Regions from separate parts of the Homo sapiens genome. Here regions 1, 2 and 4 are each linked to region 3. The links come from fine-mapping of genetic effects on gene expression. A gene starts in region 3. Each other region holds a variant in brackets. All regions are shown on one strand. Distances are between the middles of the regions.

Region 1 (8,105 bases), 42 kb before region 3:
CCCCCCACCCCACCACCTCTGCCATCCCTAGCTGGACCACCACAGATGATCACTTCACTCTCCTGACCCTCAGTTGCCTCATTTGCGAAGTAGAGATCATCACACCAAGTCCATAGGATGGTGAGGATGAAAGGAGAAAATTCACCTTCGGCACCTGGTTCCCAGTCAGTCATCCACCCCGTGGCTGCTGCTGTTTTATGAGCAGTGACTGTGCCTTGTTCTTCCTGCCTGTTATTGAGCCAAGTCACTGGGTTTGGCTGCGCTTAGGGTCCAGCCCTAGGCCTGGGGCCTTTTGAGTTCCCTGGGGCTACATTGCAGATGTCTGAGCAGCTCTGAGCCCCGCTCCATCCATCTGGCTGGGGCCTCCTCTGCGGAGTGAAGACAAGACTGTTGGCATTGGCCTTCTGAAGCCCATTAGGGCCGTGTGTGGATGCTAATGGGATGGACATCTCCAAGAGGACAAAACCATCTATAACTGTTCCATGGTTGACAGTGAAGCTGAAGCAACGCCCGGGAATGCCTCCATCACTCTCTTGGCCTCCCTACCACCCACTGCCTGTTCTAAGCCAGCAGAGCGGCTGGGAGCAAACCTTCTCCTTTCAGGACCCTGTGGTGGCTGCTGCTGGGCAGAATCTGAGTGCCCTTGGGGGCTCGAACACTGAGCCCCCAAACCTGGGGCTGTCACCATTGTTGGCCGGCACACTGCAAGCAATCAACATCAACCCTCGTGCTTTTCCATCATAGCTATGGGCAGAAGCTGTAGGAGGCTTGTTAACTGCATTATCTCTTCTATCCTCACCTGTACCCTATAAGATAGCCTTGGATATTCCTATTCCAAGGAAACAGAGGTTCAGAGAGGCTAAGCTGTTCAGACTTACACAGCTACTAACTGGCAGAGCTAAGGCCAGATCATGGAACCCTACGTGAAGAAGCGGCATCTTGTTATTTAGGGCTCTGGGCACTAGGAACTGGGGAGCTGTCCTTAGTTGGCTTTATAACAATGCATGATGAGAAGGGCAAAACTTCATGGTCCCTCCATGGCCAGAGACCAAGCTCCATAGTGATGGAGCTTCAAGTCTAAAATCTAAATAAGAGAAATCATGATTATGATAATCAACACCAGTTACTAGGTCCCAACCACCCTGCAAAGGTTCGGATGCCTGGTCTCACTTTGCAGATGAGCGAGCTAAGGTTCAGAGAGGTCAAGTGACTCACCTAGGCTTACACAGCACCCAAAAGGCCAAACCAAATTGTGAGCTCAAGACTGTTTGGAACTGAGTCTATGGTCTGTGTTTTCTAAAGATCTGTGGCTCAAATATCACCTTCTCAAGGGATCTGCTCTGACCTCACACCTGTAGCTAACATAGAATCCTGGGACAGGTGTCTCCAGGGCAGGGCACGATGACTGCATGCAGTGGAACGCAGTTAAAACCTTGAAGCCACCTCCAGACTCAGGCATGACCTTCTGGAGTCCTTGGACATCACCCTTTCTCATTTGACATCTGCTTAGCTCCAGGAGGGCAGGAGCACTGTGGATGAATGTGCAGTCGGTCCTCAAAAGGAATCTGTGAGACAGTTGAGTTAATTCATTCGTTCATCTACCAGGCATATAATGGGCACCTCTAATGTGCCAGGCCCAGTTCTAGGCACTGAGGATATAGCAACAGAGGGAGAAAGGTCCCTGTCCTCACGGAGTCCACTCCTAGGCAGTGATTAAGTGTGAAAAAGAACAATAAAGCAGGCTGAGAGGATGCAGAGTGATGAGTAGGGTGACCACGTGCCCCAAATCCCTGGAGCAACCTGCTTGAAACCCAGTGTTCAGAGGATAATCATTAGTGACCCCTTTCACCTTAAAATGGTCCCATTTGGAAGATGAATTATACGGTCACCCACATGATGAGAAGCACTACTAGGATCTCTTTAATTACTAGGTTGTGGGGCAGAAACTGTCAGTTTTCACCAATATCCATGAGCTTCTCCGTATTTCCAAGACCCGCCCCCCACAGCCCCCTGCAGTTAAGGAGGATGTGTGAGTCAGTTGTGGTCCATGGAAGCAGGGAATAAGTGTCGCCCAGGCCTGGCCCCAGACATCCTGTGAAATCCTCTACCATGGTGTGAATTATTCACTCCTCTCCCCCGCCTGTTATATGTGGCATGCACTGTCCCTCCCCATCAGTGTTGGATTTGGCCATGTGACCTGCTCTGGCCACTAGAATGTGGATGTCGATGGTATATGCCACTCTGGACCTGGCCCTTGAAACTCTAGGTCAGAGCCTCCATGTGATCTTTCTCTTCACTCTTCAGCAGACTGAATACAGAGGATCCAGCGGGGAACCTCCCAGGGATGACAGAGGCACAAAATGAAAGAGGCTGGGCCCCCAGAACCATTGCCTGGATGTGAGTGCTCAGGGGAGCCTCTGACCAGGAATAAATGCATTTGATTTTGCATGAACAAAAAATACACTTTTACTGTGCTGTGTCAAGAAGAGGTTGGAATTGTTTGTTACAGCAGCTAGTGTTAATTACCCTGACTGTGACAAGTGGCTCATGAAGGACTCTCTGACAAGGGAAGATTTGAACAGAGACCTAAATGAAGTGATGAAAGGTCCCTCCACACAGAGGATACAGCCTGGGTAGAGGCCCTGGGACGCTCAGGTATTCTGTGATTCATCAGGGCTGAGCCACAGCCATCCGGAGACCTTGCTCAGGTCACATACCCTGCCTGAGCCTTTGTTTTCTCTGGTGCCAACTGGGACAGGCACCACCCCTGCTTTTTTTCCCGATGGCACTAAGCTGGGAGGCTGATGTGGTAATGGACATGACAGGGATTTGGGGCTAGGGCCGCCCCATCAGCTCAGGGGCCACTCTTGCCCCACCAGCAGAATGATCCAGAGTGTAATGGCATTTGTGATCCCACTCAGAGAGACCTTGGTGAGGGGGGCAACTGCCCCAGTGAAAGTGCTGGAGTCCCTGATGGGGTATCTTGATGGCATTGGTGACGGAGGACACTGCACTGACTTCAGGGCTCTCAGCTCCCTGGGAGGTGCTGAGATGGATTGAGTCCCCTCTGGAATTCAAGGAGGAGAAAGGGGTCAAATGTATGTGGACTTCCTGGCCCTGAAGTAGGTATGAAGTTACCGGTCTCGCCTAGCCCCTTAAGCCCATCTCCAAGGAGGCCAGCATTCCTGTCTCTGACCACACTGACTCAAACACCTACAGCTAACACAGAATCGGGGACAGGTATCTCCAGGGCAGGGCACAGTGACTGCACACGGCAGGAACTCAGTTAAAACCTATAAACTACCTTAAGTATCCTGAGACCCCCCCCGCCATGCCAAGCACCATCCTCCTTGTTACAAGTGAACTGTCTCCAATCCTCCCAGCCTCCGTAAGGAAGGTGCTATCCCCATTTTCCAGAGAGGCCCAGGCCTTAGAGCACGTGGCAGCAGAGGATTCCACCCCAGCTCAACCTGGTTCCAAAACCTAAATTCTCTTTCACTCTGTCACCCAGACTGGAGTGCAGTGGCATGATCATAGCTCACTGCAGCCTTGAGCTCCTGGGCTGAAGCAATCCTCCCACCTCAGCCTTCTGAGTAGCTGGGATTACAGGCATATGAGCCACTGCACCCGGCTAATTTTTTGTTTTGCAGAGACAGAGCCTCCCTCTGTTACCCAGGATGGCCTCAAACTCCTAGGCTCAAGCAATCCTCCTGCCTCGGCCTCCCAAAGTGCTGGGATTATAGGCATAAGCCACCACTCCCCGGCCCCAAAGCCTACATTCTTGCTACTGAATAAATGAAAATGTAATTATTATAATAATAATTAGCGTATGGTGAAACTTGCGCTTGGCATTCTGCTCAGAGTTCCACATCATCCCAGAGGCTCCCCAGATCTACCTTTTATAGTAGACATGAATGATTCTCATTTTACAGATGCAGAAACAATGGGGGAGGGGAAATGACTCCCCAAGGTCACAAAGCCGAAAAATTATGGAGCCAGAGTCTAGAGATGGATCAGTGAAGCCAGGCTGATCCTGCCCCGAAGGAAGCCTCAGAAAAACACCCAGGATTTCCACAATCTGCCCATGTTACGAAGACCTATTGGGCCAAGCTGTCAGGCTGGCCTGCCACCGAGAGAGCTCATGCA[C/T]GAGTGGCTCAGCCATTTAGCTGAGCGGTACTGGGGAGGCAGGTCTTGCTGGCCGGGCACCCAGCCAGGACTGAGGAGTCAGGATATATCACCCCTTATTATTAGCAACATTAGCTCTGTGATTCGCCAGCATTCACGGTATTGACACTAATGATTAGCACAGCCATGAGTCTGAGCCTCTGAACCGTGCCGGGATGGCCACCCCCTCCCTCTGTGTGTGTCATCCCCGCTGTGCATGGTTCACTTAAATCAGTCCCTTGCCCCGAAGCCTCGGAGACTGTCCCTGCTCCCATGGTCTCCCCTGCACACCGAGCGCTCCTCTGTCTCTCCACGTGTCATTACCCACCATGGCCACACACACCCTCTGCAGGCTGCTGGCCCATGTCCCAGCATTGGCCAGCAGGGGCTGTGCCAGGCTGGACAGAGGGGCTCAGGCACACATGTCAGTGACACGCCTGTCCCAGCTGTTGTCCAGGCAAGGTGGGCCGCAGGAGTACTACGGAGCATGCAGACCTCTGAACCCTGCTCCATGCACTTAGCCTGGCAGAGTCTCCGGGATGCCGCCAGACACACTCTGGTGAGCACGTCTTGCTGACACCGTAAGAACTCGTGCACACTTAGCTCAAGCACTGGGTTTATGCTCCGGCTTTTTTAATGAGTATAAGACACTAACTTGTGTGTGCAGGGGCAGGAGGGCTACTCTGTACTTGACTACAAACAATCTCACTCATTCAAGGATAACATGTTTATGCTTTGAATTATACAGGCTTGTTTTTTCCACTTCTTATTTTTATTTCCCTGTGTCTTCTGAGCAATGAAATAAGCGATGATATGATATCTCTGAGGGCAGGGTCTATGCTTACTCACCGTGGCACACATCCTCTCACTCCACAAACATCTACTGTGCACCTTCCTGGTGCCAGGCCTTGCACTAGGCACTGGGGATGCAGCAGGAAACAAAAGAGACCTGGCTGCTGCCTTGATGCAATTTACAGCCTAGTGTTGTGGTCCAGAGTCTAGACGCTGAAGCTGGACTGCCTGAGTTCAAATCCCAGCTTTACCACTAGCCAGCTGTGTGGCCTTGGGCAAGTGACTTAGCTTCTCCGGGCTTCAGTGTTGTATTAGTCCGTTTTCATGCTGCTAATAAAGACATACTTGAGGCCGGGCATGGTGGCTCACGCCAGTAATCCCAGCACTTTGGGAGGCCGAGGCGGGCGGATCATGAGGTCAGGAGATCGAGACCATCCTGGCTAACATGGTGAAACCCCATCTCTACTAAAAATACAAAAAAAATTAGCTGGGCATGGTGGTGGGCGCCTGTAGTCCCAGCTACTCTGGAGGCTGAGGCAGGACAACGGCGTGAACCCAGGAGGCGGAGCTTGCAGTGAGATGAGATCGCGCCACTGCACTCCAGCCTGGGCGACAGAGCAAGACTCCATCTCAAAAAAAAAAAAAAAAAAAGGACATACTTGTGACTGAGTAATTTATAAAGGAAAATGGTTTAATGGACTCACAGTTCCACAGGGCTGGGGAGGCCTCACAATCATGGCGAAAGATGAAGGAAGAGCAAAGAGATGTCTTACATGGCGGCAGGCAAGAGAAAACTTCTGCAGGAAAACACCCCCTTATAAAGCCATCAGATCTCATGAGACTTACTCATTATCAAGAGAACAGCACAGGAAAGACCCACCCCCACGATTCAATTACCTCCCACCAAGTCCCTCCCACGACACATGGGAATTATGGGAGCTACAATTAAAGATGAGATTTGGGTGGGGACACAGCCAAACCATATCAAGTGTCCTCAGTAAAAATGGAGATAATAATAGTACCTTTCACAAAGTTGTTGCAAATCTCAGTAAGTTATGTATATGCAAACCTAGAACCATCCTGGTATGTAGGAGGTACACAATGTTTCATCATCATAGTCACAACAAAAATTATATTCTAGTGGGGAAACAGATGATGAGCAAAAAAACCAACAAAATTATTAATGCTAGCAAGCAGTGTCCTGACAGATGGCTCAGATGTATTCATATAAAGGGAAAATAGGGGAAGGAGGTGACATTTCAATGGGGTGGTGTCAGGGAAGGTATTTCTCGGTGCTTTTTATTTAAATTCAGCCCTGCAGGACAGGAAGGTTGTAGTCTTAGGATCATCCCAGCAAGGGTGATCCAAGCGGAGGAAGCTCTGAGTTCAAAGGCCCATAGGCTGGACAAGCACGCTTGGGAGAAAGCAAGCGGGCCAGAGTGGTGGGAGTGGCATGAGCACAGGAGAGAATCAAACAGGGTGAGGTGGGAGAGCAGGCACCACCAGAGGAAGGAGAGTAAGGCATGGGATTTGATGTCAAGCACGATGGCAGACCTTGGAGGGGTTCAAGCCCGGAAGCGACTGGATCTGATTTACATTTTAATAATATCTCTCTGGACACCTGGAGAGCTGGATGATGAGGGTGGCAGCCGCAAGACCAGCAGGGAGGCTATGGCAGGCGTGGACACGTGGTGGCCTGGGCTGGGGTGGCAGTGGCGTCAGAGGGAAGCGTCATCCAGATGCAGGATGTATTGGGGGAAGAGCCTCCAGAACTCGTTCCTGGACCAGGCGTAGAGAGCAAGGGCAGACAAGGAATCAGGGTGACCATGTTTTTACTTTTGGTGTTTGCTACAAGGCATGTGTTTTATTTCTTACCCTACCATTAACCAGCTGTGTGACCTTGAATATGTCACTTAACCCCTCTGAGTCTTACTTTCCTCATCTACATATCAGGGGTGCTATGAGGATCAATTAAGATAGAACATGAAGACAGAGATGGGAGAGCGTCATGAAGAGAGAAATGTGGAAGAAAGGCTGGGGAGAGGGGCACGTCAGAACTGATTCTGGTCTCACCCGGGACCCTCGGTGGCTCCACAACCTTGGCCAGAAACCAATTCCAGTTTGCTCACATATCAAACAAGGCTGAACGCTCAGTTCCTCTCCTACTACCTTGACCAAAAGGAGGCACTTCTCCCCTAAGGGAGTGGAGGTGTGGGCAGCATGTGGTTGGGCTGGTGTGGGGAGAAGCCTGACTCTTCACTGTCCCAATCCCTCCCTGCGTTGGAGCAGTGATCCCAGGAGGGCCCAGGAGAAGGTGCACTGGCTCAGCTCCAGCCTCTCCTGAGAGTGAAATGACTCAGTCAAGGTCGCCCGCTGAGCCAACGACATGGCCCAGAATAGACTCACGTTGCCCCACCTCCATACTGCACCCCACCCATCCCCCTCTTGGTACAAAGCAGAGGAAGGGACCATCCTCAAACTGATGGACGCTCACTCCCTGCTAGGCCCAGTGCTTTGGACTCGGTGTTCTGGCACAAATATAGCAAGAGATCTGTCCTTTGCAGTTTGCAAGAAATTCGGAAACTAATGGAGAGTGGGGAGAAACTGGCATTGATTACATATTCCCTCTCTGCCTGTTTCCTTACAGTATGGCACTTAATCCTCATAATACCCTCCTTTTTCTCTCCTTTAGATGGATATGTAAACAGGATCAGAGAGGGTGAGGTATTTGCCCAAAGGTCACACAGCAGAGCCAGGGTCAGTGCCAAGCCCACTCTTCATTCACTGTCCCAGCAGAAGCCACACTTTTCTCCCCTAAAAGACCAAGCTAGGCTCCTGTCCCTTTCTGCCCAGGAGGGTTTGAGCCAGAGCCTGGAAACACTTCTTGGAAGGAGGAATAAAGGAGCAACCAAAGTTCCTCCTGGTTCTGGGCTCCATCCCCTGGCAGAGCGTCGACCTTGGCAGGGGAGCCCAAGGGCATCATTTGGACTTCCCTAACCTCCACGCTCAGCCGGCAGGTGCCCTGCGCATTCCTTATGAACCTGCCACATTTGCCGCCCTGAGAAGCCGACATGAGGGATGGCATTTTATTAGTCCCTCCCCACCCTTCTGTTTGGACTTCAAAACATCTACATAAATTACAGTCCTCG
Region 2 (8,105 bases), 120 kb before region 3:
AGTGTCCAAGAGTCAGGCTCTTGCCGCTTCCTCCCAATTTCCTTCCCCTCCCTTGAGGGGTCCACAAGCAAGACCTTCCCAAATATCCAGCCAGAGGTTTTGTTAGCTCCAAGGTTAGGTGATCCCTATGGCTTCAGATAATTTCATCAGCTGCCCTGATTTACCCAAAGAATCCAATGCATTCATGATGTTTTCTGACAGCTCAGGATGATCCCTTTGCTAAGATAATGTATTTAGGACCAGAGGGGAGGCTGCTGGGCTTGACACATGTTTTGGGCCATTTTGTGCCCACTGTGCTGAGCAGGCAGTGGCGGCCTCATCACAATGCCCTGCTTCTTCCTTCTAACGGGGTTGGAGCCACAGTCCTGACTGGGCCTGTGTAATCTATTCATTTCCTTCCAAGCCGGGCTCTGTAAGCTCATTCACGGAGGATGGAGAAAGGAAGCTGGGACGGGAAGCAAACACACGTACAGAAAACAAACAGCACTCGGCAGCTCCCTGCTTGGAGGAGGGGGGCAGGCTGCGGGGAGAGGGAGATGGGGAAGGAAGCCACAGTGGGGGGTTCGTCTGGCAGGGGAGGAAGGGGTCAGAGGAGGGTCTGGCTGGAGAAGGAGACTGGAGCTCCTGTTGCTGCTGCTCCCATTCCCTCTGGAAGCCCTGCCCTGACCTTGACTCCTGGAGCCCCCATCTTGGTAGGCTCTTATCTCTCTCCCTTCAGCTGCCTCTTTGGGAAGAGAGACAATCACTAGAGAAAGCTAGAGTGGCAGAAAGCAAAAACTGGCCACACGGAGCCCTTCCCTGGAATTTCCTTCCTTCCTCTGCCCCCATCCTTCCCATCATAGGCGGGCACGTGGGCTCCCTGAGACCTGAGGACAGTAACCAGTCAGCTGAGCCACCACCTCCGTCCAGCTACAGAATTACAAGGGCCCAGGCATTTGGCTCTAGTGGGTGATTTGCATGTGATTTGCATACATCTGCATATGCCTGCTCCAGAGGCCCTCAGTCAAAGGATGTGAAATGAAATAAAATAAATTAATTAGTGCAGCCTACCATGGCCCGATATGCAGCGCCTGACAATGGTAAGAGATGCCACTGATTCTTAAAACTACCAGTGGCATCAAGGTTAGGCAGCAAGAGTGGGGGAGAGAGGAGGGTCTCCCTACCGGAGGATGGCGAAGAAAAAGGAGAGTCTCTGTCCAGCCCAGGACATGGATCCTCCTGCCCCAGTCCTGCTCACCATCTTCAAGAACATCAAGTCAAGCCATGTGGAAACCTGCTCCTGGCTTCTACACCTGGGCACAGCCTGGCACTAGCATTGCCCATAACTCCAGCAGGAGCCTCTGCAGGGAGATTTTCACCACTGTGACTATGGTAACATTCGATTTCAAACCGGAGGGAGGACAGTTGCTTCAAGAGCTTGGAAGGCAATGAGGTGCCCACTGCTATTTTCCCATCTCCAAACTTCCTTCCATTTCGCTCCATTAACTGTTCCCACTGGGTCTCCATATTTCTATCTGTCTTTCACCACCCCTCCCTCTGATCCCATCTATGGGATGGCTGAGGGAGAGATGTGGTCCCATCATCAGCAGTGAGCTGGAGTTAATTTATCCCTGTCCTTCTGCCAGGTGCTAATGAGATGCTCCCAGCCTGTGTCAGCCAAGCAGTTCCCATATCCTGTAAATACACCTCTTAGTGATTCAGTTCATGGCACTATTTAACATATGCCTTGACTTTCTCTAGGCCCACTGATCTATCCAGGATGGCACCCTTCCTTAAGGCTGGGACCCTCTAGGGTGCTGGATGTCAGGTTCACACCTGTGAAGCCCAGGCTACCTGAAGAGCTTGGGTGGAGGGCACTAGAATTAACTCTAAACAGGAGAGACTGCAATGCTGAAATAGAGAACTATGATTTTTGGTTAGAAGGAGTGCAGATCACAGCCAACAAAATAGCAACAACAAGCAAACCATGAATCAGAGACCGAAAATGCAAAGCAGAGCAGCCAAGACAGGCTGGTTCAAAGCTCACCTGGACCAAGAGCAAGAAGGAGACTGAAGAGAGCTGTTCTGAGTCAAGACTATGAACAGCACGCATGCCCCAGGGATTCCTCTAACACTGAGTTTCCATGCTCTGTGTGTAGATGTGGTGACAGCTCCAAGGAGCAGAGGAGCCAGCTCTAGATCTTGAATCACAGTTTGGTGCCCACCCCCCACCTTCCTTGCCCTCTCTTCCATGCTCCATCACTTCCTCCAGAACAGCTCCACCTAACTGTGCTATCCATCCGTTTCATTTGAAGAAAGGGCAACAAAGATTAGGAAAGCGTGGTTTCTGATCAGGGATTTGCAAACTATAGCCCATGAACCAAGTCATTCTATAGCCTGTTCTGTACAGCCAGCGAGCTAAGAACAGTTTTTACCTTTTTTAATCATTGAAAAAAAATAAAAAGAAGAAGAAATTATGACACATGAACCTTGTACAAAATTCAGACTTTGGTGCCCATGAGTAAAGTTTCATTGACACACAGCCATGCCCTTTCATTTACACACTGTCTGTGGCTGTTTTGATGCCATACCAGCAGAGTTGAGTAACTGTGACCAAGACTGAATGTTTGGCAGACAGGAGAATATTTACAATCTCAGTCGTCACCAAAAAATGTTGCCAACCCCTGTTTAGATGACAGAAGAGGAGTTCTCCCCCAGGATGGTGGTGCCTTTATCTGTGCACACTCAAGCATGCATTGGAAGAAAAGCATCACTGCCCCCTGGACCTTCTGAGCCCAGCCCCAATTCCTTTGTGGCAAAGGGATAGAAGACTGGGATGCCCCATCCAGACACAAGAAGATTTCACTCAGTGGTTGAAAAGGCCCCTTGTGCTCAAGATTCCAAGCTGTTCTTCCTGGTGCCAACACCTGGGCCCTGGGCAGGTGGGTACCTTCTCATCTCTAACCAATTCCCTTCTCAGATGGTGCCAGACACCAGGATTAGTCCTATACGTAGTCAGATTAGGTGGCAGACTATCTCTGTGATTTGATTTTGCAAAAGGCAGGAAGCCTTCCTGTTTTTCTCTCTCCCTTGCCAAAAACATTATCCGAAGCCTCATGCTCAAAATTCCACCATCAGATATCACTTGTGATTACACTGTGCCCAGGGTCCAGGGTGTTCTCAGTAACTTCTACTTTGCCTAATGGAGTTTTCCAAGCGTAGGGGCATAATAGGAGCACAAAGAAGGTGGAAACCAGATCAGTCCTGAGGGTAGAAGGGATGGCTAGTACCCAAGGAGGGTGTCAGCAGAGGGCGGGGACCCAGCAGATGCCCAGGACAACTCAGGACTGGGTCAGGGCTGAGGTCATAGCCACACCAGTGAGGGTGTCCAGAGGGCTCTGAGGACCTCACACCAGTCCTGGCCATGGGCATGAAGGGGGCAGTAGTAGTGACTTACCCGGTACCACACGATCTCCCGCATGCGCCCATCTGTCTTGAAGTTACACTTCAAAGTCACGGCGTCTCCAGCCACCACAGGGGGGAGAGGCTCAATGTTGACTGTCAGGTAGCCTACAGAAGAGAGGAGAAAGGGGTGGTAAGGGCACGAGCAGATCAGAGGGGCTGGGCTGATGAGGGCAGGGCCAGGGAGACAGCAGACAGAGGAGGGAAGTTTGGGGTCTGTAGTTGCACAACTTTGAGGGACGCTGTTCACACTGTGGTTTCTGTGAATGGTGACTGCAGGCCCAAATGGAGCCAATCACCCTCTTCTTCCCTCTCTTCAACATCTCCTTTTTGGCTGCCTCCCTGGCTCCAATGGATCCCTCCAAACCAAAAACACTTCTGCTTGGGACACATTTTTCCCTGAAGGTAGGACCTGCTGGCACCTCCAAGAACAGCCTCAATGTATTTCTATAAGATACCCCAGAGAAGGCTTCTGTGCCCCAACATCGCCCCTCCACCCCTTTTTAGAGTTGTGGCATTCATGATTCATCTATTCGGTCCTGCAGGAAATGAATGCCGAAATGTATTTACTTGGCATTTCCAAACCTATTTGAATATGGGTCGCTCAGCCACCCCTTAAGCCCCACCACCATCCTACGCAGCCAGGATCTGAGAAATACACACTGGGACATGGTGTTCTAAGTGCCCATACTCCTCCATTTCCAACCTCATAAACAAATGACTCCTGGTAAAAAGAGAGCCCTGGGAAACCACCATTGGCTTCCTTAACACCCTCCATTGGCTTTCCCACCACACATACTTTGCCACCTAAAGGGAGGGTCGGGTCCAAGCCTTGGCCATGGCAGTGGTGATATGTTAGAGAAGTCCATTATAGACCCACTATCTGGGGAGGAGTCTGAACTCATTGCAAACACCAGGTGATGCTTCCCGGACTACTACCAGCTGCCCCTGGGAGTGCCTGGAGCAGACGCTGGGACTCTTGCCCTGGTAGCCACACCTTGGGGACACTGCTCTCTCCACACCAAAGTCTAGTCTGGTGAGGCCTCTAACCCACTCCTCTGCCTCCACTAGCCCCATCCCAGAGGCCTGGACCTTCACCGCAGTTCCGAGGGGAACCTCATTCCTGGGCTGATCATCCAGGCTCATCTGATCGGCTTCCTGCCGGCTGATGTCCAGTCATTGATCTAATGGATCAATCCAGTCCGATAGTCTTAATGAGAAAACTAGCCAGGATGGGTTCGAAGATTTCAATTGTGCAGGCAAGCTGAATAGATGGAGCCCATGGGCCTGACCCCTGCCTGGAACTCAATGGTTACAACACTCCAGGAAAACAAAAAACAAAACAAAACAAGAATCGACCTGGAGAGGATCAATTTGGAAGTTGGAGTCAGAGCGGACCTGCACGGTCCAAGGCTTCAGGACCCAGCCTCCAGGGTGAGGGGCAAGGCAAGG[A/G]GCTCACTCCAGGGAGGCCTGTAACTTAGGCCAGAGGTCAAGCCCCTGGATAGCCCTGGAGCCCACTTGGTCTGACAAAGCCACAACCACAACCAACCGGTCCAACTTCCAAGATCAGAAGGACCAACCCGGATCCTCCTTTCCTCATTTACTCAACCCCAGTTCACTCCCACCTACCCTGTGCGGGCCTGGGGCCAGGATCTGGGAAGCAGAGACCCAGGCATTGCTCGGCCCTCCAGGAACAAGCAGTGAGGGTGAGACAGAGATGCCCAACACAGTCACCACTCAGGTGACCAGCCAGCCTCTAGGTAGGCGGACGGGGGCCTGTGGGTGGGCACAGAGGGAATCTGATCCAGCCTGGATGATCCCAGCCATGGGGCATGACAAACAAGGAGGCCACCTTCAGGAGGACAGACCCCACGGAAAGGGAGACCTCCGGGCAAGCCAAGCCTGAGTGTAACATTGTGATACTGGCTCACATGTGCACACCTGCTTTGTGCCAGGCACTGGGCTAAGCACTTGATATGATATGCATCTACTCACTTAATCACCAGGACACTCCTAGGAGAGAGGAACTATTATGATTCCCACTTTCTGTGAGTGAACCAAGAGGTGAAGTCCCCTGCCAGATCACACAGCTGCAAGTTACAGAGCTGGAATTCAAACCCAAACCTTCGGGCTCCATGACAACCACCACGCTATTACAGCCTCTCGGAAGAGGTGAGAGAAAGTGGCAAACACTGTACATCTGCAGCCTGCATACTTTTTTCTTCCAGCCCTAAAGATGGAGGATGGGCATTGTGGCAGGAACTGTGATAGGAGTTGAGGACCTGACCCCATGGCCACAATTCTGAGCCACGTGGCTCAATCTTCCAGTGAGGCTGCCCTCCCCTGGGCTCTCTCTCACCTTTGCAGATATAGTTATGAGTTGAGCCTCATCAGTCCAGATGGCTGATGAGATCAAGGCTCATGAAGGTCCTCCTCCCACTGGAAAGAGGAGGGAAGGACATATTCTCAGATGCATAAATCTTTGAGCAGCCCGAGGTGGGTGCAGATGGTGTGTGCCTGTGAGGCAGGCAGGGCAGGATGGAGGGTCACCATTTGTTGGCAAGCCATGAGGGAATTGCAAGTGTAAGTGTGGCGGTGGCGGGGAGGGCAAGTAGGGGAGTGGTTGCAGCTCTGGTGATTGGGTGGTAGTGTTAGGAGCACTGGCAGGCGCAGCAGATGTCTGGGGCAGTAGAATTCACAGAGGCATGCCAGGGTGAGATCAGAGAGCCCACTGCATACGCACTCAGTCTTAGAGGTGAATCAGGAAGTGTGTGCAGGAGTGGGGTGGCTCTGACAGGTTAAGACAAGACAGCTTTTCCCAGAGTGTGCAGAGAATAGGGATCTTCTCACCAGTGTTTCAGGAAACATGATTTCTTTGTGTGTGTGTGTGTGTGTGTGTGTGTGTGTGTGTGTGTGTGTGAGAGAGAGAGAGAGAGAGAGAGATACAGAGTCTCACTCTGTCATCCAGGCTGGAGTGCAGTGGTGTGATCTTGGCTCACTGCAGCCTCCACCTACCGGGTTCAGGCAATTCTCCTGCCTCAGCCTCCTGAGTAGCTGGGATTACAGGTGCTTGCCACCATACCCAGCTAATTTTTGTATTTTTAGTAGAGATGGGGTTTCACCATGTCGGCCAGGGTGATCTCAAACTCCTGACCTCAAGTGATCCACCCGCCTGGGCCTCCCAAAGTGCTAGAATTACAGGCATGAGCCACCATGTCTGGCAGGAAAACATGATTTCCAACATCCATGAATTTTAAGAGATATTGGGTTAAGTATAATTAAACCCGTTCTTCCCTTCAGGACTTCTCTTAACTTTCTCTCCTTCCTTCTTCCTGTCTTTCCTTTATGCATGAAAAACAAATTAATTGAGAATCTATTCCGTACCAGGCACCGTTGTAGGCAATGGGGACATATCAGTAACAATAGACACGTCCCTGTCCTCATGGAGCTGCCAGTTTAGCAGAAGAGCCCATAATCAAATAAATGATGGAAAATATGTCCAGTGGTGATAAACATAATGAGGAAAAGCAAAGCAGAGTGAAGTGATAGAAGGCAATGGGGGAGGGGCTTCTTTAGCCAGAGGGGCCCTGGGAGGCCCTTCTGAGGAGGCTGGAATAAAGGAAGGTGTGAGCCATAGGGGTATTGAGGAGAGAGCATTCCAGGCAGAAGACATGTCAAGCGCAAAGGCCCTGAAGCTGGAGTGTGTGCTCACAGTGCCTTGTGACCCTCCAAGTTTGGGCCAGAGTGGGAAATTTTTCTTCATATTTTACACTCTGGAGCCCATCTTTTTCAGAGCATCTTGTAGAACCTGAGCCAGGAATGGGAGCGAATACAGTGAGACAAGCAAGGGGCCTGCAGTGCAAAATTAAAGGACACCGTCTCATTGCACCATCCTGAGAGTGAGTGGGTGCCTCTTTGAATGTTACCCCCTGTGCACCTGGCTAGCTTCACCCTAGTCTCAGCCCTGCTGGAGTCCTTGAAAACAAATGTCGGGAAACACCACTGTAAACCGAGGCAGGAGTGACTGTGTCTTCCATTCCAGGGATGGCCCTACTTGGAGTCATGGTAGCAGCCAGGAGGAGAAATGCTCGTAGCTGGGCACTCCCCTTCTCATCCCCGCAGGAAGCTGAGGGAGTGGGGTTTCCAGGCTGCAGAGACAGGTTTAGCTCTAAGGACTAAAACTCCTTGCCTGAGCATGTGTCACTTAGTTTTCCCAGCACTCTCACTCCCATTTTTTCAGCAGCTCAGGCAGCAACCAGTGCCTTGTACGATGCCACGACCATGAGTATGTCACACTGGAGTGCAATTGTCTGTTTGCACATCTGCCTCTCCTTCTGGAATATGAATTCCATTAATATCAGTAGAGTATTAAAATATGAATACAATAAGCGATGCATTCTGAGCGTTCATGGGCACAGGCAGTTTGGGTCCTCGTACCCTCCTGTAAATATGCCTCTGTCACAGACAGGAACGAGCTACTGTTCAGAGCTATGGAGCACCTCATTCCATGCCTCATGGACAGAGCAGCCAAGCTGGGATCTGAACCCAGAGCTATCTGGCTCCAAAGCCAACTTCTTTCTACCACTTCTTGCTACTGGCTGGAGCAGAACATACTACTTGATGGGGTCTCTTGGGAATTCTGGGTGGTATCCCCCAGTTTGCAG
Region 3 (8,105 bases):
CCCATCTTGCCAGAGTGTAGTGAAGTTCAAGTGTGTCTGTGACTGACGTTCTGAAATATCAGAGTAGCAGGCAGATCTGAGGCATCACTCAGATGACCTGGGTCCTTCTCTACTCACATGCCCTGCCCAAGGGATTCTTTGCGGCCAGAGAGAGGAAAGGAAGATTCAGCGGAAAGAGGAGCCTGGGGCAGAACTAGGAGGGAGCGGAAGGAGCCTGTACTTCTGTCATTAACAAGTCTTAAACCTCAGAACCTCAGTTTCCTAATCTGTGAAAAGAAGGTCTTAAATCTATCTTGCAGCATGAATGAGGACTGCGAAGCAGCAGCCAGCATCCTGCTTGACACATCGCAGCTGATCCATATAATCGGGGCTATTGGAAAAACAAAACCCCAGCTACAATACTAGCTGCGGAGGAAGGGAGCAGTCTTGAGGTTGTGAAAGACTTGTGTGGAAGGAGCGCTCGATGTGGGCCTCATCCCCAGCATCCACCAGGGCAGCTTTACTTTAAGATCTATCATCTTGCTCAAGGTATTGGGATTTTAGGAGGGTGATAATGTTTCCTCTAAAAGGGTTTTCCTACTTAAAAGAAAAAGAAAAACACACAAGTTTCAAAACCACCGAAGTGAGTGATCTCCGAGGTCGCTCCAGCTCGAATATTCTCTGCACTTAAAACACGAAAATGAAAAACTCCCATTTGCAGAGCGGTTATGGGGTGGAAGAGGGGTGGAGTTTATGGCTAGGGGCGGGGCCACGCTGGAGGGGCATGGGCGAGGCAGCCTGCAAGGGATTAGGGCCCTTAACTCCCCCAGTTGGGGCTGGAGAAGAAACCCTGCCGCGCCAGAGGCCCCGCCCAGTGGGAAGGGGGCGTGTGAAGGGAGGATAAATATATAAAGTCGTCACACCCGCTCGCGCGCGCACAGCCCCCGCAGTCTCGGCGTTGCGGTTGCGGCGGCCTAGCGGAGACAGCCCCTCCATCCCATCCACCTGCTGACACGCGGCTGCGGAGACAGAGAACCCGAGAACCCGAGAACCCGCAGGGCCGCCCACCTCCGCCCGCGCAATCCCGGAGACCCCCGGCTGGGGCCGTGGGCTACCCCTAACTGGGGCTGCCCCCACCCTGCTCTCAGCGGAACGTTTCCCAGGGCTGAACAGCGGCTAAGGACCACTCCTCCATCCCCAGCCCGGCGCCACTGCACAGGCTCCAGTGCAGGACTTCCCAGAAGTGCCCAGGCACGGTTCACGGGGGCTGGAGGAGTTGAAAACGCCCCAGGACACGCCCAGGAGTCCCGAGAAATGTGGGTTTCTCCTTTGGAGGGTCTGATTCTGGGAAGTGGGGAGCCAGGGCAAGGACTTCCGGCCCAGCCAGTGCGAGGGGCAGCGGCCTCCTTCCTCCTGCCAGACCCGACTCTCTAGCGTCGGGCACCCTTGCTCTGCCACCCAAAGGGGCAGAACCGGCGAGGGCGTTCTGGCCGTGCCCCTCCCCGAGCAGTGACCGCCAGTACGTTCGTGAAGGCCGGCGCGGGTTGCTCCTCTCTGCGCCCTCGGAGGCAGGTGGCCCTGCAAAGCCGCTGCCAGGTGCACCTCTCTCGGCCACCTCCAGGAAGGGCGCCCTCCTCCGGCACAGCCCGCCTCTTGCGTCTCTCACGGACTCTTCTCGCACCCCGCCCCCCATTCTGGGCACAGACTTGGAAGGAGGAAGGAGGGACCCCACCCTCGTGTGCTCTCCTCTGCGGAGAAGAGAGGGCTCCCGGCTGCCTCGGATCTCCCTCTGCGCCCCAGACGCGGAAAGTTTCCCATTCGCGATCCGCGTCTGCGCTCTTCCTTCATCCTGAGCAGCGGAGCTCCGAGGCCGCGCTGGCTGCACCGGCCCAGATGCGCTCACCCTCAGGCACGCCAACCCCCGCCTCCCGCAGCCCGCAGAGGCGGGCAAAGGGATTTGAGGCGTCAGGATGCCGGGTCAGCTCTCTGCAGCCGGGCAGCCAGAAGAACCCTGCTCCCGGGTTCCAGGGAGAGCTCGCAGGGTGGGGTCCTGACGGAGCCAGGGTTTCCCAACAAGCCCTTCTCATCAGTCCTCTCCTTCACCCTGCCGCGTCTCTCTGTTCTGCGCATTCCCAGGGAAAGGGGTGCTTACCTTAGGTCCCCAGCCTCCAACCCCCGCCCCCTGCAATGTCCAGGTGAGGGCTCCAGTGCCTTTCAACAAACCCCAGTGCCCTCTCGGCGGCGCTGGAACGAGGACCTCCCCCATGTAACCTTTCCCTCTAGAGCCCTCCTCCCAAAGTTGAGGGGGGACATTTTGATCCACTTAGGAAAGTCTCTTGTTCCAAGGGTAGGGGAACAAAGTACAGGGTTTGCATTCCTTCTGGGTTACACCAACCCCTCCCCCCTCGCTGTCAGGACCACCTTCCGGGCTCAAATTCTGCAGCTTCTCCCATCAGCAGACCCAGCACTCCCCAAGGACTTCGGGGTAGAAGGAGTTGGGGTTATTTTTAAGGGGGCACCCCTTCCTGGCAGGCACTCTCAGAGCCTAGGTAGGCACCTCCTGCTGGGACAAGGCTATGGCATAGGACAGAGGTGATGCCCACCTCTATCATCCAGTGGGGCTCGGGGTCGAGACCTTATTGATCATAAAGACGACTTTTTGGCACCTCGCGTCCCGCTCCCCTCCGAGGCGGAGCCAGGCTCTGACTCCAGCCAGGCTGAGGTTGGCACCAGGCTCCGAGGAGGATCCCGGACGCGGAGCCTGTAGTCTCGGTGCCTGCGGCTCTTCGCTGGTCCCGCCTCCCTCCCTCCTGGCTTTTAGCCTCACGTTGGCTCTCTGCTCACTGCGCGAAAGGGTTCAGCTCCATTTAAGACCCACTACGCGGCGGCACTGGGTGGGAGGCCGGCCGCGGACCCTGGGGCTGCGGAGCCACCTCTCACTGGCTCCGGAGAACCCGCTCGGCTTCAACCTCCTTCTAGCTGTCTTAGCCTAACCCGGGAGCAAGTCCACACGGCGGGACACACACACACACACACACACACACACACTGAGCTGCTCACAACTCCCCAGCCCCGGAAGCGTCCATACCTCCCTGCACACGATAACCACACGCTCCATGGCACGCATACACACACTCCCAGCCCCATGAAGCCCACGACTCCCAGGCACCTGCACCCCCACCCATCCCACATAAGCAGACTCTTGTCCAGTGTCACAGTCCCATCTCCTGTGCACACAGAAATAGTAATCCGCTGTCGTACACCCCTAGAGACCTGCACACTCGGGACACACGTGAAACGCCAAACCTCACATACCCACCCCCTAACACCTCACACCCACAGTGACACAAGCTCACACACTTCACACCCTCACAGGGAAGGTGGCACATGTTCACACCCTCCCCCCAACATTCGCTCACACTCTCACACACACACCTTCTCCATGTAACTGACACAGACACTCTAACACCCATCCAGACCCTCGCTCACTCACACGCAGACCCCACACCATCACACACACACGCACACACACACTTGCATCTCTAAATACACTCCCGCACCTTCTGCCCACACAGCTCCTTCCCGGACACCCTCACCCAGACACACAACAAAGACACACAATTTACACACACACACACACCCTGGCACAAATCCATGAGCGCTCTCCAAGAGGCGTCCTCCCTCCCTCATCGAGCCAACCAGCTCCACAGACCCCGGGCAGGACCGGTGCTCGTAGCCCGAGCCTCTCGGAGCGACCCCGGCCAGCGCCCTCCCCCGGCACCCCGTCCCCGCGCACGTTCACCGCTCGGCTCCCGCCAGGCGCCCGCGCACTCACCGCGCGCCAGGTCCAGGATCGCGGCGAGCAGCAGGCAGACGCAGCGGCGGAGGCTCGGGGCGGTTCGCATGGTGCCCGGGAGCTGGCGGCGGTGGCGGGGCGGCGGGGGTGGAGGCGGTGGCGGCGGGTCCCCTCGCCATGGGCTCAGACGCGCTCCTGCCTCCGGCCACTGGCCGAGGCGGTGGCGGGCAGCGCGGAGAGCCGCGGGGGCGCCCCCATGCCGCCGCGGCCAGGCAGCCCGGGCGCCCGGCTCGACTCGGCTCCGGCTCTGCGAGGCGCAGCGACCCTCGCGCTCTGGGCGTCCTCGGGGCTCGCCGCGGTTCTCGGCTCCCTAGCTGCGCGCGGTGCCCACCGCGGCCCAGAGTCCGATCGGCTGCAGCGCCGGAGTTTGGAGCCGAATCGCGCTCTCTGCCTCGCGCTCGCCTCTCCCGGCGGCGCGAGCACCCCCCTCCTCTCGCCCTCCCTCCGTCCCTCCCCCTCTCCCCGCCCCCCCGCCCTCCTTGCCCTCCCCTCGCCGCGCTCTCCGCGTATTATACAGACTTTTCTTTAATCCTTTCTGGGCTGTTCGGCTCTCGTCCGCTAAGCCGATTTATTGCAGGGAGAAGGAGAGCTCACCCCCTCCTAACCTCCCCTCTCCCCTCACTCAGGTCCCCCCTCACTCAAAACTGGCTTGCTGCCTCCAGCTTCTTAACCCTTACCCAGGTGACCCAACACCCCGCCCTGGAAGCTATGCTCCATCGGATCCGCCTTTACCTAGCCCCTCCTATCCCCGGGATTACCATCGCCCTCCCCGCTACTCAGCCTGATGAAAGGAGGCAGCCTCCCTCCCGAGAGGGAAAGATGCCATCCTGGGAGCAGGGCAGGCAGGGTGTGGCTCTGGAGTTCTGACCTTGCCAACGATGAATGCCCTCATTGGGCAAGATTAAGGGGTTTCCATGTTCTGAAACTTCCCCAATTACGGCTGCTCCTTCCCCCAGGGACCCACGGAAATGGGGTGTGTTCTGTCTTTTTCCCATGTGCTAGGATCCAGCCAGGAAGGGTGAGGAACTGATTGTTTCCTCCTGGCAGAGACCAAGTTTCCACCTTTTTGCCAGACCTGACAGCTTTTCTTCCCAGGTCCGAGAAGAACAGGTTTGGGACTTGTATGTTACCATTACTCTCCCACCAACACACACGCGAGCACACACACACACACACACACACACACACACACACCATTGAGCCTCAGCCCTGGCGGTGGACTTTGAGGCCTCCTGCGAGGATGAAGGGGAGGGGTACTCTAGCCCTTGGAGTGGACTGGGGATGTGGTTAGATGAGGAAGTTCAGGAGATAGAATTTCACCATTGGTAGGGACCCAGAAGATTGGCAAAGCCCAGAAAAACCAGCACGACCAGGGGCAAAACCTGCTCAGAACTCAGGTGGGTCCCTTTACCCAGGCCTTCTATGGAGAATCTCCAGCTTCCCTAGCTCTGGCAGGTTGCTGAGTCAGGCTGTTGCATCGTTTACCTACATGGGCAATGGGTCTATAGCCAGTTCCATCTCCAGCAGCCCTCTGAGAGGAGTGTAGGGAGTGGGGTGGGCAATGGGTGGTTGCTGGGCTGCCTCTGGGTGAGCTTTGTGCAGAGATGTCCATGAAAGTGAACTGCTCCCTCCTCCTGCCCTCTGGAACCTCACCCCATCGCCTCCCAAGGCAGCTCTGCGGCTCAGCTTGCTCACCCACCCCAGAAGGAGCGATTTGCATTTATGAAGATCTGAAAGCATACGTTCACCTGACAGGCTTTAGAATGATCCTCTCAGTAAAATAATAATAATGATCATAATAAACCCTTATAAATAGGTGTTTGATTACAGTTTGTCCCTAAGTGGGATTTTTTTTTTTTTTTTTTTTTTTTTTTTTTGTGAATCAGACTAATTGGTTCCAGGTTGATTGGACTGCATATGGCTTGAACACTTGATGAACACTGGAGTCTTAGGTCCTTTCTTCTCCCTTTGGCTGCTGTTCTTTGCTCCCTCTCACTCGCATCCACCCAGGTCTCCCCTTCTCCAGGCTGCTGAGGGTCAGCTTGAGGTCACCTCTCCCCCTCACCTTCTTCTCAGGCTGCAGGGCACAGTCCCTTACTGCCTCCTCCCTGGCCCTCCCTCCCCACTCTGACCCAAGAAAAAGTCAACAAACCCAAAAGTCCATCCCAGGTTCTAAATCCTCTGTGGAAGGGGCTCCCTGGCTGGGGAACAGCATCAGGTTCATGCGGTTCCTTGTGCTGGTCTGAGTTGTGCAGGGAAATGCCAAGCATCGCTGTGTGGGCATTCCTACTCTCTGGCCCCAGCTGCAAATCGGCGTGCAGCTAGGCAGGTGGACAGCATCAGTTCCTCAGGTGAACCCTGAATTGGTGGGGCTTCCTGGCTGCGCTCCCTGCAGCCCAGCCCTTGGAGATGAGGGCCAGGGAGCAGGTGGGATTCCAGGGCCCCTTAGTGATGTTTCTTCCCAGCCATGGTTCACACCAGCTAGAAAAGAGAGCCAGCAGAAGGAGCTAGAGAATGGCATCTGAGGATATGCTAGTGAGGAGGAAAGCAGGCCTAACAGCCAAGGGAGGGTTGCTTCCTAGGACCAAGGATTGGGGCTGGTGTGTTGGAGATCTCCTTCAGCCCCAAGACTTCTGAATCACCTCAATTCTCTTTAACATCACCCTGTATTATAATTATTATTATGCCTAGCCAGTGCCTGACACATAGTGGATCCTCAATAAATACCAGTTGGATGAATGCGTGAATGAATGAATGAATGAATGAATGAATGAGGGTAGGTCATTCAGTCTTATCCACTCTGTTCCTCAGCTCCTTGCACAAGTCTGGCACTTGGTAGGCGTCCTGTGGCAGTGAACCTCCTTGGAGCGCCAGGATCACATATTCTGACTGGGCCCATCAGAGAGGAGGTGTCTGCTCAGGTGCGCAGTTTGGTTTTGCCCAAAGGGGCCTGGCTGTGATGTGCATGTCTATGGCCATATGGTAACCATAGTGGTTAATACGGCTGCCTTCACAGGCCCCTCCAGGGAAGCCCACTCCTCCAGCTCCTGTTTCATAAGATATAGCTTTAAAGCCTTTCCTTTGTCCCAGAGAAAGACATCTCTGGAGCACTGAGAAGCACAGTTAGCAGAGGGCACAGGGTGGGGTGCCTTAGCCAAAGGAAAAGGTCACGCGGGACAGCCCTGGGGCTTTTAATTTGCTTAACATCCCTTGGCTCCTGTCTCCTAATGGATCGGCAGGGCCTCCACTTTGCAGTCCTGGCACTCAGACCCATGAGTCACGGCAGGACAGGCCTCTTCCTCGGACACTGGCTGAGCTGGAGTCCTTGGCGGAGGTGTGGCTGTTTGCCCCCAGCCTCCCTCTGTTCATGGTGCTGAGTTAGGCTCTCCCAACAGAGTGCACTACAGCACAAAGCAAACTTCTACTCCGCGGACCCCAGGGAATAGCCCCAGAGGTCAAAGGGCCCCTCTGTGACCTCTAGTCCCCACCCTCCCTGCCAGGAAAGGGGAGGGACGCAGCACATGACTGCCTACCCCAACCTGGCTCCCAAGGGAATGGGCTCTGCTGGTTTGCAGCAGGACACCCAGTGAGGTTCAATAATAAGAGTCTGAAGCACTTATGAAAGTGCCTCTTTGTGCCGGGTGCTGTGAAAGTATTTAATGTATATAAATTCATTGACACCACACAATAATGTATGAGGTGGGTCCCATCATTAGTCCTGTCTTACAGTTGGGAAAGCTGAGGCACAGAGAAGTTAAGCAACTTTCTCAGTACAATACAGCTATGAATAGGACCAGATTCCAACCTAGGAAGAGCTCAAGAACCAGAGTTCCCAAACACCTTACCTAGACACAGTACACCACACATACACACAGGCACACACATACAAGTGTACACACACACACACAAGTGTACACAGACACACACAAGTGTACACACATACAGCCACACACATAAGTGTCCACACACCAACACAGGCACAAGCAGAAGTGTACACACACAAACACAGGCACACACAAGCATACACACATACACACAGGCACACACACATGCCCACAAATGCCCACACACAGGCACACACACACAAATGTCCACACACACAGGCACACACATGTGTACACACACACATGTCCACATGCACATACAGGAACACACACACAAATGCCCACACACACACACACAGGGGCGCACACACACACACCCAGGCACACACACACAGACACGTGTCCTCACACACAGGCACGCACACACACGTGTCCACACACACATA
Region 4 (8,105 bases), 71 kb before region 3:
TATATTCTATAAAACGGACATTCTTCAGCCAGCCAGCAGGTTCAGACATGCAGGGCAAGGTAAGATCGTGCCTCCGCCAGGGGAATTACCTGGCTGCCTGTCTCAGGGGCTTCTGAGGCTGCTTTTAGAACAGCACATAGGGTTCAGGTCACTCTATTAGAAAAAGGATATTACAGAGGCGAGGGCAGCCAGGCCCAGGAGGGGGCAGGGTGGCTTCCTGTAATGCCTGGGCAGCCAGTTTGCAGCGGGTGAAGGAGGGTGATGTCGCGTCTGCTGGATAAGGAGAGTGATGATGCTGTGTCACCAGGCCTCGTGTGATTCATCAGGGGAACGAGAGATGAGGGCAGCGGGGCCTGGAGCATGGGTCAAGTGGACAGACACAGACATGGAATCTACAGGCAATTTCACCAGGTGGAGAGGCTTCGGACCCCATTAGGCACCTTGGCTCTGTTCCCACCCCTATACGGATGACCCCCCTCGAGGGGTGGGAAGTGCTCAGAGGGCAGCATGCTAGAGCAATGAAAGGACAGAACTCAGGAAAGAGTTTCATGTTTCATTCATTCATTCATCCATGCATGCATTCATTCATTCAACAGTGGTGACAGAGACAGTCTCTGCTCTCACAATGAGTCACTTAATGACAGCTCTGGTCACTGCCAGGAGGGAAAAGAACCAGTGCTGGGACAGCTGCTAAGAGTTGTGACATATGCCACAGGTTCAGGAAAAGAAGAAACAAGTTACCCTCAAAAGACACTTTCTGGGGGTCGGGTGCAGTGGCTAATGCCTGTAATCCTAGCACTTTGGGAGGCCGAGGTGAGCGGATCACCTGAGGTTAGGAGTTCAAGACCAGTCTGACCAACATGGCAAAACCCTGTCTCTACTAAAAATACAAAAAAATTAGCCGGATGTGGTGGCATGCACCTGTAATCCCAGCTACTGGGGAGGCTGAGGTGGAAGCATCACTTGAACCTAGGAAGTGGAGGTTGTAGTGAGCCGAGATCACGCCACTGCACTCCAGCCTGTGCAACAGAGTGAGACCTTGTCTAAAAAAAAAAAAAAAAAAAAAAGACACCTTTCAGAAGTGGTGGCAAGACTTTCCACTTTGTGGTGGAAGGAAAGGAAGGAAAGCTTGGTCTGCTGGACACTCAGGACTTGTCCCGATAAATAAAGGTTTCAGATCCCATTTAAAGGCTAACAAATGGGGGTGCCTGGCATAGGGCAGTCACCCAGAGTTCTGAATCTGAGTACAGCTCTGGAAATTCCTAGCTGGACAACTCTGGGCAAGTTGCTTAATTTCTCTGAACTGCTTTCCTCATTTTATAGCAGAGCTCATCAGACACAAAATGAACACAGCCCGCCGTCCCTCTCAGTGTCTTATCTAGTGATGGCAGTGGTGTCAAGATGGGAACGTGTGCTTACTGAAGGCCCTCACACTGACCCAAATGCTGCCTGGGCCAAGGGACCCTGGCTTTGGGTGGCCCAAAGATGCTGCCAAGCCAGATGTGCTTCTGGGAGCTGGGAGAAGAGTCACTATATTCAGAAGGCCTCCCCTGTTCCCATCTTCTGCAAATCCTTGGAGGACAAATTCAAAAAAGACAGAGCTGACATTCTGCCTAGCCAAGATAGGATGGGTGTCTTTCCAGGGCATGGCTAGGCAGAGTGGGCATCCATGTCAGGAGCAGGAAGGGGAAGGAGGAGCTGGGACCTGACCACAGGTCACTGGCTGGTGCCCTGCTCCCTGCCAGAAGCATGTATTATCTCATTTAATCCCCAGCACAATCTAAAGGTCCTTATTATTATCATCACACACAGCGTTTGGGCTGCTCAAGCTGGAAAATTCTGGGCCAAAACAGCGTTTGGGTCAGTGTGCATGGTCCTGTAATTAAACGCACCCTGTCACATCAATGTCGCAGCCATAATTAGACAAGAAGCCGAGCAGGGCAGTGGCTTATGTCTATTTGGAGTTCGGCAGAGCTATGTGCTCACAGCTACGTGTAGGATGGGGCTTCGGAGATATGAGGCAGGTGTTAAATGATGCCAGAACACATCCGCCGCACGACCGAGGATCCACCACCACCTGCAGGCATCAGGCCCTGAGCCGGGGACTAGGAGGAGGGGAGGCAGCAAGGAGGAGGGCTCATTCCCTTCCCTGGTGGGAAGCCTGGATGCAGAAGAAGGGAGCACTCAGCCCTGCCCGATGCAGGGATCACAGACTGTGGCCCAGTTCCCTCCTTTACAGAGGGGGAGACTGAGGCCCAGGGGAAAACAGATCTGCTTAGGTTCTGCAGGGCAGGCACTTAAACCAGTGTCCCCAACTCCAATGTCTTTCTTCTTGATTTCAAATCCCTGATCCGCCTCTTACCACAATACCATGTGATATCAAACGAGTTATCTAACTTCATGTTGCCTCAGTTTCTGCATCTGTGAAGTGGGGATAATACTGCAGAACTCATCAAGGTTGTATAAGCCTTAAATGAGTTAATATATGTAAAATGCATAGAACAGTGCCAGGTGCATATTAAATTCTGTATAAGTAAGTATGAGCTATAGTGTGACATCCACAGTTTCCAACAAAGAGCCTAGAAGGCTCTGGTGCAGACAGAAACTGAAATGCTGAACCTGGAGTAGGAAGGGAAATCATCAGCCCCCTTATTCCCTCATCCTTCCATAACTGCGCCTTCCAAACCACTTTTTTGCTCAAACCTTGGACCTGTCTACACTTTGTTTTATCCAGGGAAGCTATTGATCTACCTTAACTGTATGACTGTGGGGCATGCTTGTTTGTATGTCCAGGCCTCAGTCTCTGCAATGGTGGAAGAAGGCCAATACCTCCTCACTGAAGGCTGAGGGCTCAGCAACCCAAAGCGCTAGGCACAAAGATGGTTGTAACTGCCATGTATGTGCCAGACATGTTTCATTCATTCATTCATTCAGGGTTTTTTGAGCACCCTGCATGGCAGGCACTATTCTAGATGCTAAGTGCACAAAGAAGAATGAAACAAAGTCCCTACAACCTGGTAAACATCTACACCTCGCCACATGCAGCGTATATTCTATTATACCCTATGTTTCCATGTGTCACGCAGTGGAATATAAGGAAGCAGGAAGTGCTATGGAGAAAATTAAGGAGGGGAAAAGAACAGTGGATAAAGGGAGTAGAGGGGCTATTTCGATCCAAAAGCCAGGAAGAACCTCACTAGGATGGTGACCCAAGAAGAAGGGAGAGCGAGTCACTCAAATACCAGGAAAGAGGATGCCAGGCCAGGAGAGCTAAGGCGAAGGCCCTGAGCCTGGAATGTGCTTGGCAGTTTCTTTTCCTTTTGCTTGGAGGCTTTTGAAGAATGCCAAGGGGGTCAGGACAGTCAAAGCAGAGTGTGCTATTCATTCATACTCATTATTATTACTTTTGTTATTCATAGAAATTGATGATTCTTACTTAATTTCAATCTGTGATCTGGACCTAAAGGATGGGATCTGAGTTTCCAGATCCTCACATCCCTTGGGTGGCTCTGCCATCCCCTGGAGACCCTCACCCCCAAGCCGACCCCTCCTCACCAGTTCCTGCTTCCCTGGCTCAAGCATCCGTCACCCCGACCCCAGCCAGAGAGTTGCCGCCTCCATCAGGCCCAGTAGGGACCGTGCCCAGGGCCCAAAATATGTTTTCATTTTGATTCCTTTTAAAATCAGGGAAAAAAATGAATAAAATAATAATGAATATAGAATTACAAATCCAGCCTGGATTACATCTTTGGAATACATCTTTATTCCAATGTGGTCATAAAATAAACATTTTACCATTTTTACATGGAGGCAGGGGCCCACGGAGGTAACAGTGCTGGACCCATGAAAGTCACAATGGGGCCAGGCTGGGCTGGGACAGTGGCCCCTCTCTGAGGGATGGGGGTGGGAGTCTGCTCCATGCTTTGGGCAGCTCTCAGGTGGAGTCTCTCTCCCTCTAAGACCGCAGCCTGGGAAGGTTGGAGCTCAAACGAGCACCTGTTGAGTTGCCGTGAGCTGCTTGGATGTTGCCTCTGCCACCTGCCAGCCTCCCTGATGGACAGAGTCCCCTCTCGGCTTGGACAGGAACGAGGTGACCAATGGTCGGTGGCTCCGTAGTCCCACCCCACAGCTGGCTTCTCTGAGCCCTGCACAGTGGCATCTCCAGGACACCTGCTGCCTCCATCTATTGGTGAGTCCCCCACCCTTCCTCTTAAATCTAGGGAAGTGGTGATTTAATATTAATATTTATTCATGAACTCAATTCTTTCCCTGTTAAATAATTTCTCAGCTGTCGGAGGCTTCTGAAGGCTAATTTAAAACAGGTGTCACGGTTATCTAACTTATGCCCTTAGATTCTCAAAGAGAGGAAGGGCGGAGAATAAGCATCCCTGCGCTCGCTCCCCGAACTGCTGCCTGCCTGGGGGTCTGGAAAACAGGCACAGACCCGTCCTCTGGGAGGCCAGACCCTGGGGTGGGGTAGGGGGAAGGGGAAGGGGGGATGACATCACTTGCTGGCCGGAGAAGCCGACCCCAGGGCTTAACTCTTAAAAGGAAGGAGAAGCTGGCAGGAAGGGGCACTGGGAGAAAGAGGGAGGGACAAGATTTTTAACTGAACAATCTATGCTCGTAGAATAATAACAATAGAATAATAGCTAACACTTATACAGGATTTAATATGCACCTGGCACTGTTCTATGCATTTTATGTACATTAACTCATTTAAGGCTTATACAACCCTAATAGTTCTGCAGTATTATCCCCACTTCACAGATGCAGAAACTGAG[G/C]CAACATGAAGTTAGATAACTCGTTCAATATCACATGGTTATTATGGTAAGAGGTGGATCAGGGATTTCAACTCAGGAAGAAAGACATTCGGCTGAAACCCGAGTCTCCCTTTCGGTGGCCAAGGGACCTCTTTATGGTTTCACTTCCTCTTCTGTAAATGGAGAACATACAGCTTAATTGTAAAGAATAATTAAGGGGATAACGAGAATATCTGATTGGGCAAGACCTGGCTGTATGCATTTTGGGGCTGGCCTGCGGCAGGTCAACAGGACACGATGGAGGGAATGACGCTGTTGTCACAGTGTCTGACACTCCCTTTCTCTCTTTTCCAGCCTGCTCCCTCTTTCTCTCTCTCTCTCCCCACTTCCCCGCCTTCCTTTCTTCTTTTTCCTGACAACCTCACACTTCAAGGTTATATCTGTTACAGCTGATTGAAATCTATGTGATGGCTTAAGCACTGGCCAATGAGAGCTAGAAAAAAAGTAAGAAACTCGCCCCATCGTGCCCACCTTTGCATCCCACCCCTGCCCCTTCAGATAAACTCACCAATCTCAGCGCCTCTTCATCCACCCCCTAGGAGATCCAAATTCATCATCTTCTCCACTCACTGAGAAGCTTGTTTGCCATAGGATATATTTTGAAGACAACGGGCATACCGAATATGACTTTTTAACATATATGTGCCACCTCCTCGATCCAATCACCCAAACACACCCACTCCCCCTTCCACAGGGTCGTTGCTCTAAATGGGGAATTCCTTGTTCAAGTGGAGAGAGGGGATGAGACATTTGATCATTCCCCAGGCACTATGCAAACCCATGCAAATTAAGGAAATGCACACCACATCAGTAAGTGTGTTTGTGAATAAGAAATAAGAGATGAAGAGACAGGACAAGGCAATAATCAACTGCAGAAAAAAAAATCATCAGAGAGAACCTGAGACTGGATAATGGCCTGTGTTTATGTTTTATGTGCACATGAATATAGATAGGTTTATGCATATGTACCAAGAACCATGTACACACACACACACACACACACACACACACACACACACACACACCTCACTGACCCCATCCCCACACACGACCACAGTCCTTCTCAGCCATCTCTGGGTACATGCTCAGGGCTCTGCATGGACTTTTCGGGGCAAAGGAAAAACCTTGGACCCTGGACCACCTGCCCTGTTGTCTGAGTCCTTCAGAAAGTGCCCATTATTGGATTATTACTGACTCTGGATTCTCTAGGCCACCAGAGTCTATGCAATCTTTAGCTTATGGAAGGATCTGTCTGTAAAGTTCACTTCTAAGTCAGCTTCTTGGATCAAGCAATATATCTTCCCAGATAAACAGTGTCAGTGGATACAATAAAGTCATGGTTAAAAGCACAGACTGGGAGGATGGCAAACTTTAGCCTGGAATTAAACCACTCTGTGTCCTCATCTGTTAAAGGGGGAAATAAAAATACTCACCAACCTCAAATACATCCAGAAAAATTATAGGAAGCGCTGTATGTCAAGTGCCCAGCAAATAGGAGCTCAATAAGCAGTGGGCAAGGCTACTAATAGCACTGCTAAAGTCACAGCTGGCCTGTTGTCCTTAAAGCCCCAGGGTAGCCCCCAAAGCCCCCTAATCCCCAAGGGAGCTGACAACGTTTTATTTACATTTGTGGTTACCAATGACTTGTAACATTGTTTCCTTGGGGAATTGCTCTGTATTCTAAATTCTCTGTGGAGACCCCGGAACTCCTCCCACCTCACCAAGGAAGAGGAGGAAAGTCTTCCATGGTGGGAAGAAGGTCACAGGGTCAGGGGCGCAGATACTCTTAAATACCAGTTAGTGAAAACGGCACATCAGTGTGAAAAGGCTTACTCCTTGGAAAACTGCTCCCGAGGATTATCTGCTATGTGCCAAGAGATGCCCTACTTATTAGATTGTATCCTTTAATCTCGACAACAGTTCTGGGCTTGACTGACTCCTTTTGCAGATGGGACCCCTAAGGTTCAAGGAGGAAAAGTCTTGCTCTCAAGATCACTTGGCTAGAGCCTGGGGGAGACCAGACTGGAATTCAAGTCTGTTTGGCCCCAGAGCCTGTGATCGTTCCTTAACTTTGCCACAATGCCTTCAGGTGTCTGAAAAATGAAGCCAGGTGTCTCGTCATTTGCAAGTCAGATATCTTTAAGCTAGGATGCCTCTCTGTGTCCCCTCCTGCAGTTATCTGCCTAAAAGCAGCTCAACCATGTGACACTGCCTTGAAAATCCTTCTTGTTTTCACCCTGCAGGCAGAGCCGACAGCCCGCGGAGCAGGAAGCCTGATTCCCAACCAGGCTCATTGCTGTGTGTCTGTAATTAAGGCCCTTGACATCTCTGAACCTCATTCTGCAGTTTCAGACATCCAGGCCAGGCACCGGGCCTTCCCTCCTTCACAAGGCAGAGGGTACAATGAGCTCACATCCAGCGGCATGCCCAGGGACTGGCAGAGAGCCAGCATCCTACAAATCCACAGGTCTGCTGGGCATGATCTACTGCCAGGAGCAGGGAACAGGCACTGCCCTCTCCTCCAAGAGGGCTGGAAGAATTAATATTAGTACAATTATTTTAATCAGTGCGTGATTAACAGGCACATGCATAATTCACCCGGCTCTTCCCTCTGCCTTGCTCTGGGCTTTTGGAGGCGGAGGGAACATGGCTCTGGCTCATTAGCTCTCCCTCCACCCTGTCCTGCCACCCCTGTGCTAGGGGAGGTGACCTCCTGGTGAGAGAGTCCTCGTGGGAAGGAAGGTTCAGAACAGCCTCTGCCCAAGGGACCCCTTATAAGGGACTGGACAGAGGAAGGGAGCCCCCGCTACCCCAGGTTCTTCCCGGGTCACTTCCCACCAGGAGCAAGGGACAAGGAGGTTCCAGACTGACCCCTCCTGCCTTTAACCTTGGATGTCTGCACCCCTCTCCCCGCAGCATCCCTCAAGGAGCTGCCCTTGTTATTCCATGGCATCTTCCTCTGAATCCTTCAAATGGCTCTTTCTCGTTTCCTCCCGGCTGTCTGCGGGTGCTAACTCTGCAGTTCACTCCCCGCTAGATAAGATAGGGAGGCCTAGTATTTGTCCTAAAATCACCTCCTTCAACCTTAGCTTCTACCAAATGTCAGAGCTAGAGGGGCCTGTTTACATCACACAATCCAGTCCCTCCAGATTATAAAGGGGAAATAGAGCCCAGATAGGGGAAGTGACTTGTCCAAGGCCACACAGCACATCTGTGACAGAGGCAGAGACAGAATTCTGAGTTTTGGACGCCCAAGCCCAAGAGTTTTACTCAAACTCCAGA

Direction of the effects. Alleles are on the strand shown, and positions count from the first base shown. SD is a standard deviation of normalised expression in the study named. Not every link is listed here.
With allele A in place of G in region 2, the expression in cerebellum of the gene that starts at base 4,215 in region 3 is lower (moderate effect, 0.60 SD a copy in GTEx).

What was found.
Region 1: its variant is fine-mapped to the expression of IGSF21 in pancreatic islets (PISA, PIP 0.95).
Region 2: its variant is fine-mapped to the expression of IGSF21 in cerebellum (GTEx, PIP 0.95).
Region 4: its variant is fine-mapped to the expression of IGSF21 in testis (GTEx, PIP above 0.99).

Annotation. Positions count from the first base shown.
Region 1 is chr1:18,145,632-18,153,736 of GRCh38, reverse strand. The region is part of intron 1 of IGSF21 (immunoglobin superfamily member 21); the gene reads right to left. Among named protein-coding and RNA genes, the nearest start is that of IGSF21-AS1, 26 kb to the left of the region's middle. RefSeq lists enhancers at 6,119-6,618, 6,619-7,120. The variant C/T (reference allele first, on the strand shown) is at 4,147.
Region 2 is chr1:18,223,342-18,231,446 of GRCh38, reverse strand. IGSF21 (immunoglobin superfamily member 21) reads right to left here. Exons shown (of 10, transcript NM_032880.5): 2 at 3,437-3,549. Among named protein-coding and RNA genes, the nearest start is that of IGSF21-AS1, 51 kb to the right of the region's middle. RefSeq lists an enhancer at 1-450. The variant A/G (reference allele first, on the strand shown) is at 4,894.
Region 3 is chr1:18,103,908-18,112,012 of GRCh38, reverse strand. It overlaps IGSF21 (immunoglobin superfamily member 21), which reads right to left and starts at 4,215. Exons shown (of 10, transcript NM_032880.5): 1 at 3,815-4,215. The coding sequence starts at 3,884.
Region 4 is chr1:18,175,136-18,183,240 of GRCh38, reverse strand. The region is part of intron 1 of IGSF21 (immunoglobin superfamily member 21); the gene reads right to left. IGSF21-AS1 (IGSF21 antisense RNA 1) reads left to right here and starts at 7,205. Exons shown (of 3, transcript XR_001737917.3): 1 at 7,205-7,290. RefSeq lists enhancers at 7,037-7,536, 7,537-8,038. The variant G/C (reference allele first, on the strand shown) is at 4,785.